Homo sapiens: one gene and its partner. The protein of the gene in region 1 purifies or fractionates together with the protein of each later gene. This does not show direct contact. Each region holds a gene or a part of one and is shown on either strand. Other genes may lie near its edges.

The links.
Region 2: the proteins of ACSM3 (region 1) and NUDT19 purify together in Homo sapiens (affinity purification with mass spectrometry; one large-scale study listed by BioGRID and IntAct). This does not show direct contact.

The regions. Positions count from the first base shown.
Region 1 is NC_000016.10:20,784,485-20,788,304, forward strand, and holds part of ACSM3 (acyl-coenzyme A synthetase ACSM3, mitochondrial), read left to right. Parts: intron 1-499; coding exon 500-623; intron 624-1,593; coding exon 1,594-1,674; coding exon of another isoform or gene 1,675-1,767; exon of another isoform or gene 1,768-1,830; intron 1,831-3,820. UniProt on the Homo sapiens protein: Catalyzes the activation of fatty acids by CoA to produce an acyl-CoA, the first step in fatty acid metabolism. Capable of activating medium-chain fatty acids with a preference for isobutyrate among fatty acids with 2-6 carbon atoms.
Region 2 is NC_000019.10:32,698,048-32,701,867, forward strand, and holds part of NUDT19 (acyl-coenzyme A diphosphatase NUDT19 precursor), read left to right. Parts: intron 1-1,637; exon of another isoform or gene 1,638-2,100; intron 2,101-3,820. UniProt on the Homo sapiens protein: Fatty acyl-coenzyme A (CoA) diphosphatase that hydrolyzes fatty acyl-CoA to yield acyl-4'-phosphopantetheine and adenosine 3',5'-bisphosphate.

The DNA of each region.
Region 1 (3,820 bases):
TTGCTGATTTAAAGTGTTATTATGGTGCTCACTTCAGCAGTACATACACTAAAATTGGAATGATACAGAGCAGATTAGCATGGCCCCTGCACAAGGATGACATGCAAATTTTTGAAGCATTCCATGAAAACATAAAAATAAAAACAAAATAAAATAAAATGTTATTATGGGGTACCTTCCCTAAGAACAGAATGACCTTCTTTGTAATAAATTATACCTCCACCACAAAAAGGGGGGTAAAGAAAAACTAGTATTTGGGGTATTCTAGTATCATTCTATGATATTAGAATGATTTATCTTTTTAATATCTTTATTTTTAATTTGTGTAGGTACTTAGTAGTTGTATATGTTTATGGGGTAAAATGGTTTGTTTTGTGCTAGGGAGAGGAATTAAAAAGCGACTAAAACATTTTATATTGAAGTTCATAAGAAATAATCCTTAATCTTCACTTCTCTCCATTTTTCCTCCTAAATCTAACTTATCTGGTTTTCTGAGAAGCTATAAGTTTAAAAGCTTAAAGCACTGTGTGAGTGCTGGGGAACCAATTACCCCTGACGTGACTGAAAAATGGAGAAACAAGACGGGCCTGGATATCTACGAAGGATATGGACAGACTGAAACGGTACCTGACCTCACTGAAAAGACATAGCTGGATTCCATTTAGTCAGATGAATAAAAACCAAAGTGTCCACAGTCTCCTTATGATTATTTGAGGGATAGGAGTTGAGTGGTTAGAAAATGTTTAAAAAAACAATGCTTGCAAGAACCTAATTGCAAAAAAGCTCTGTTAACAGATAGTTGTTTAAATAGCCATTCATTGACAAACACCACTGTTAATGGATCAGAGTAAGGGCATTACAATATTTTTTTAAATGAAATAATACTGGATCTACTGAAAGAAAGAATTCCTCCCAGTGTGATAGGGAAGTATCTTATTTAGGGCTGCCTCAAAATGGAAAATGCTGAGATCCTTGCTGCCTGAAATATTAAGAGTTTGCTGGACAACTCCTTAGCAACCATACTCTAAAAAGGATTTTTTAAAGAGCTCATAGAGATAAGGAATAAGAAATTCTAGAGGAAATGAATGAAATAAGAACAAAAAATGAAATAAGAACAAAAAATGAAATAAGAAAAAAGAACAACAGTGGTTATTTTGTAGAAGAGGGAGGAGTAAGATGAAATAGATAAGGGAAAAGTTGAAAAAACTTTTCACAATGTGTCTTTATAATGCTTCAATTTATGAACCATGAGAATGTATCACCTGGTAAAAAATGAAAATATCAAAAATAAAAATCAAAAATTGAAAAATTCATTAACTAGAAATAGCATAACAAGTATGCTAATATAAATGCAAATGTTAATATACTCATGTTTTGATAAATATGGATATATGAGTAATTATTGTTATAACTATATTTTATACATATGCATGTATTTATATGTTATCACTACATTCCATGAGAGTATAGCATTCATTTTGAGCCTAGTTCATAGTAAGTTTTCAATAAATAATTTGTTGAATGAATGCATGATAGATGAATAAATTTTAAGTGACTTGTAATGTTATCTTACTTTTTCTTCTTCTTAACTAGGTGCTAATCTGTGGAAATTTTAAGGGAATGAAAATTAAACCTGGCTCAATGGGAAAACCTTCTCCTGCTTTCGATGTTAAGGTTTGCACATCCCCTTCCAGGAGAATGTTTAACAACCCAATCTGTACACTACCTACCTACCGCTTACCCCCATATAAACTTTCTTTGTTATGATGGTGATTCCATTTTACTTCCATGATACTTTAATTTTTATAAATATGTGAAAATGATTAGAAATGTTAGCTTCTTGGTCTCCATTATTTTGCAAATACCCATATTGTACCATACAGTTCTAAGCATTTAATAAACGTTAACCCATTAGGCTGGATGCAGTGGCTCACGCCTGTAATCCCAACACTTTGGGAGGCCAAGGCGGGAGCATCACTTGAGCCCAGGAGTTCAAGACCAGCCTGGGCAACAACGTGAGACTTTGTCTCTACAAAAAAATATAAAAAACTAGCCAGGCATGGTGGTACGTGCCTGTGGTCCCAGCTACTCAGAAGGCTGAGATGGGAGGATTGCTTGAGCCTGGGAGCTTGGGGCTGCAGTGAGCCATGATCACACCACTGCACTCTAACCTGGGCCACAGAGCAAGACCCTGTCTCTAAATAAATAAATATTAACCCATTGAATTTCCAGAAGAAACCCTATGAGAAGCATACTAATATTAGAACCATTTTACAAACAAGGCACAAAGAGGTAAAAGAACTCACCAGAAGTCACACAGCTAATAGCTGCTAGAGTTGGGATTCAATCCCAAGCAGTCTGGCTCCAATATCTGCACTCTTAACCACAACACAACACTGGTCCTCTCAGGCAAGGGAGGTCAAGACCTTCTGAGCGGGTCAACTAGGCCCGAAGAGGCTTCAGTTTACAGTGGCTGCAGCACTTTCCCTCTCTGCTCCCAAGCCTGCCTGGCCATTTCCAGCCTCTCTGTATCCACTGCCACTACTACCACCTGATGCCTAGGGGGAATTCCAGTTCCCCATCAGCAAGCTTTATATAGGGTTAAAATTGTTCTCAGATCAACCGAGCTTCAAAGCTGGGTGTAGCCAAAGGAACTTAACACTAATTTGGACACTCCTCAACTTATGATAGGGTTATGTCCCAAAATAATAAGTCATCATAAGTTGAAAACATCCTAAGTCACAAATGCATGGCTGACTGGGAGCTGTGACTTACTGTTGCTGCCCAGCATCTAGAGAGAAAGATGGTTTCAACTGAATGGTTATCTTTTTCACCCATTGTAAAGTTGGGAAATAGTAAGTTCGAACCATTTTAATTCAGAGACCCATCTGTACGTTAAGAGACAGCAAAAGCAGCAAAAATATGGATGAATTAACAGAGTACAGCTCTTAGATAAATGTTTCCCAAGCTTGTTTGATCATAAACATCATATGGATATCTGTTAAAAATACTAATTCTCAGGCCCCTGGAGAGACCAATTCAATAGATTTGGAGTGGAACTCTGAAATTTGAAATCTTGTGATTTTAACAAGCACCCCCCAAGTAGTTTTTAGGATCAAATAAGTTTGAGAGAGTTTAGATGAGCTTGATTGCTGCTGTAACTCTTTATAGAATAAACCAGATCCTGGGTCCTTTCTCTCACTTTAACCTTGCTGTGGAAACCTGGTCTCAAGATAGGATAGCCTAGTGGTTCAACTATATCTCTGCTATTCACTGTCTGAGTGTCTGTGGGTACACTGTTAAAGCTCTGTAAGTTCCAGTTTCCTAATTTGTAAAGTTGGGACTAGAGTGACCAACCTGTCTGTTTGCCTGGGACTTATCTGGTTTTAGCACTTAAGGCAATACATCCTGAAGAACCACCCCCCGACAACCCCTCACCACTTCAGTCTCAGATGGTTGGTAAACCAAATAATAACAGAACTGATTTCATAGGTTTCTTGTGGTGATTAAAGGAGACAATATGTTTAAAGAGCATATCAGAATGCTTAGTACATAATAAAGGTCCAAAAGATGGGTACTGTTATTTACTTCTCCCTCACATTCCTCTTTTTATTTATTTATTTATTTTTTTATTTTTTCACATTCCTCTTTGAAAAGCTTATCTAAGAAAAAATGGTAGGAGAGCCCAAACAGGCTTAACAATAGTTTGTTGGTTAACAGGCTACCTTAGGTTGAAGAAAGAAATATTGATAATTAAGCACACTCATGTCTGCATTACAGGGAAGTTGATATGTAACACAGCTATGTTCTTTTTCTTCCT
Region 2 (3,820 bases), on another chromosome or scaffold:
GAGCTATAGGGAGGCTAGGATATGGAGGTAAGCTGAGAGGTCCTCCTGTGGGATGTAAATTGCAAGCTTTGCATACTTGGGTATTCTCCTTCAATGAAAAGAAAACTTAGACATAAGGTATTTCACTCCATTTGCCTTCCCTCTTACAGAAAAGGTCAGGCTGCAGGATAGTACTGTAGTTTATACTTCCCTCAGGTGGCCATTTTTCCCCATCAGAGAGAGAAATTGGGGCCAGGCTGTAGTATAGAAAAAAATGAGCCACCTCTTTTTCAGGGTTTGTGGGTCAAATTGGTCCCAGTGGCTTAGGATGCATTTCAAGGGTGAGCCTGTTGATGCCTGAGTGTTTCCCATCTGAAAGACAAAACCGCCTGTGGTTTTGGTTTGTTTGTTTCTCCCCCTGCCCAAGAACCTGCAACGGTCCCTGGACCCTGCTGATCGGAATAGTTGTGCTCACCAATGCAGCAGCAGAAACACCTCTTGCCCAAGAACCTGCAACAGTCCCCGGACCCTGCTGATTGGAGTAGTTGTGCTCACCAACGCAGCAGCAGAAACAACCCCTGCCCAAGAACCCGCAACAGTCCCTGGACCCTGCTGATCAGAATGGTTGTGCTCACTGACACAGCAGCAGAAACACTAGTTCTCCTAGACCACAAGGAGGAATGAGGAAGGTCAGATTTCGTGGCCCTTACCAACACATTCTCGAAAACCTGCGCCCTTTCCTGTCCTCCTAGACCTCAAAGAGGACTGAGAAAAATCAGATTTAGTGGCCCTTACTGATGCATTCTTGGAAAACTGTTGGAGTCCTAAGCATTCTCCTGTTAGTATTGGGACCTTACCCATGTCCTATAAAGATGTTATGCCCCCAAAATGAAGTGGAGGGCCATACCCTGAGGGAGGGAAGGGATCTCCAGAGTTGGAAGAGTGAAGCCTTTTATCCCCAGTTATATGAATAGGAAGGATACAATTTCTGAGGCTCCCGATATCCTAGTTTCAGGAATAGCTTTTGTTAGGCCTGCTTTTCTGAGGAGGGATTCTAAAATTCCAGATAATCCCCCCTACGATGGGGCTTTGAGCAAAAACTGTGTCTTTCTGATTGGTGAGCCCGGGTGTCTAAAGAAGGTAACAGAGTCCTGAAGTTTATCCTAGAAATCATTCTTACAGGAGAAACTAGAAAAGCACCAGAGATGGAGTGGTTTTTAGAAGTGGGACTAGCCTCAAAGAAAGGCGAGAGGAAGTTTGTCTGACAGGCATTAGGACCCAGGAGGCAAGGGTCAGGATAGATAGGATAGATGGGTGAGTCTCGCCTGTGCGACGTGACTTTCAGAGTTCCATTCATGGCTGCAGGGTCAACCAACTTGTTGTCGGGACCCCGGAGCTGAATGGCTTTCCTCGCTGTCGACCCTCGGCTCAGCCCAGAAGTACAGGAAAAGCAGAAGCTGGTTCCAGGCAAACCAACGCTCCCCACTCCGAAGAGTCGGGGGTTGTTAGCCCTTTCCCAGAAAGCCTGACACCCGTGTCTTTAGTTCAGCAGCCACACTAGTCGCTTTTAACTGGCCAACATGTCCCCATATTTAGCTCTCAAATTCTAAGGAAAAATAGGACAGAATAGCAAGCGAAAGGGGTCCAAAGGCACTCACCGCTTAGTGATAGGTAATAGTCCCTTCGTGGTCACCAAAATGTGTCCAGAATTGGTTCCTTCTGGTGGGTTCTTGGTTTCGCTGACTTCAAGAATGAAGCTGCAGACCCTTGCGGTGAGTGTTACAGTTCTTAAAGATGGTGTGTCTGGAGTTTGTTCCTTCAGATATTCAGATGTGTCCGGAGTTTCTTTCGTTGGGTTCGTGGTCTCACTGACTTTAGGAGTGAAGCCACAGACCTTTGCAGTGAGTGTTACAGCTCTTAAAGGTGGCATGTCTGGAGTTGTTTGTTCCTCCTGGTGCGTTCCTGGTCTCGCTGGCTTGGAGTGAAGCTGCAGACCTTCGCGGTGAGTGTTACAGCTCATAAAGGTAGTGTAAACCCAAAGAGTGAGCAGCAGCAAGATTTATTGCGAAGAGCAAAAGAACAGAGCTTCCACAGCATGGAAAGGGACCCGAGCGGGTTGCTGCTGCTGGCTTGGGTGGCCAGCTTTTATTCCCTTATTTGGCCCTGCCCACATCCTGCTGATTGGTCCATTTTACAGAGCGCTGATTGGTCCATTTTACAGAGTGCTGAGTGGTCCATTTTACACAGTGCTGATTGGTCCGTTTTTACAGAGTGCTAATTGGTGTATTTACAAACCTTTAGCTAGACACAGAGTGCTGATTGGTGCGTTTTTACAGAGTACTGATTGGTGCGTTTACAAACCTTGAGCTAGACACAGAGTGCTGATTGGTGCATTTTTACAGAGTGCTGATTGGTGCATTTACAAACCTTTAGCTAGACAGAAAAGTTCTCCAAGTCCCCACTCGACCCAGGAAGTCCAGCTGGCTTCACCTCTCACTGGGCTGAAGTGATTCTCGTCTCAGCTTCCCGGGTAGCTGGGCCCACAGGCACCTGCAACCACGCTTGGCTAATTGTTTTATTTTTTGTAGAGACCGGATCTCACTATGTTGCTCAGGGAGGTCTTGAACTCCTGGCCTCAAGCGACCGTCCAGCTTCAGCCTCCCAAAGTCTTGGGGATTATTGGCATAAGCTACTGTGCCTGGCCAGTTTCAGTCTTTTAAAATTTATTGGCCAGTACAGTGACTGATACCTATAATCTCAGCATTTTGGGAGAAGAAGGCCAGAGGATCAATTGAGCTCAAGAACTCAAGACCTGCCTGGACTGTAACATACTAAGACCTCATATCTAGAAAAAATTTTAAAACTTAGCTGGGCATGGTGGTACATGCCTGTGGTTCCTGTTACTGAGGAAGCTGAGGTGAGAGGATCCCTTGAGCCTGGGAGGTTGAGGCTGCAGTGAGCTATGATCACACCACTGCACTTCAGCCTGGACAACAGAGTCAGGCCCTTTCTCAAAAAAAAAAAAAAATTATTGAGACTTGTTTTATGGCCATGAATATGTTCTATCTTGGTGAATGTTCCCTTTGCACCTAAGAAGAATATGTATTCTGCTATTTGTTGGTATTTTGGTAAAAATGTAAAATTAGGTTGAGTTGTTCATAGCATCTTGCAGGTTTTTTTTTTTTTTTTTTTTTTTTGAAACAGAGTCTTGCTCTGTCACCCAGGCTGGAATGCAGTGGTCTGATCTTGGCTCACTGAAACCTCTGCCTCCCAGGTTCAAGCGATTCTCCTTCCTCAGTCTCCCAAGCAGCTGGGATTACGGGCGCCTGCCACCATGCCTAGCTAATTTTTGTATTTTTAGTAGGGACGGGTTTCACTGGGTTGGTCAGGCCAACTCCTGACCTCAGGTGATCCACCTGTCTGGGCCTCCCAAAGTGCTGGGATTACAGGCGTGAGCCACTGTGCCTGGCCAGTCTTGCAAGTCTTCTATATCATTTCCTTGTTTCATCAGGTGCTGAGAGAGGAATGTGGAAATCTTCAACTAATAATTGTGGAGTTGTCTTTTTCACCTTTTAGTTCTATCAGATTTGGCTTCATGTATTTTGAAGCTCCCATGTAAGGTACTGACTGTATCTACATTTAGGACTTTTAAAAGTTCATGGATTAACTCTTTGATGATTATGAAATATCCTTCTTTATTCCTGGTTATAATCTTTATTCTGAAATCTGAAGTTTACTCTGTTTGATATTAATATAGCCCCTCTGACTTTCTTTTGATTCATGTTAGTATATTTTTCTATCCTTTTAAACTATCTGTGTCTTTATTATTTAAAGTGTGTTT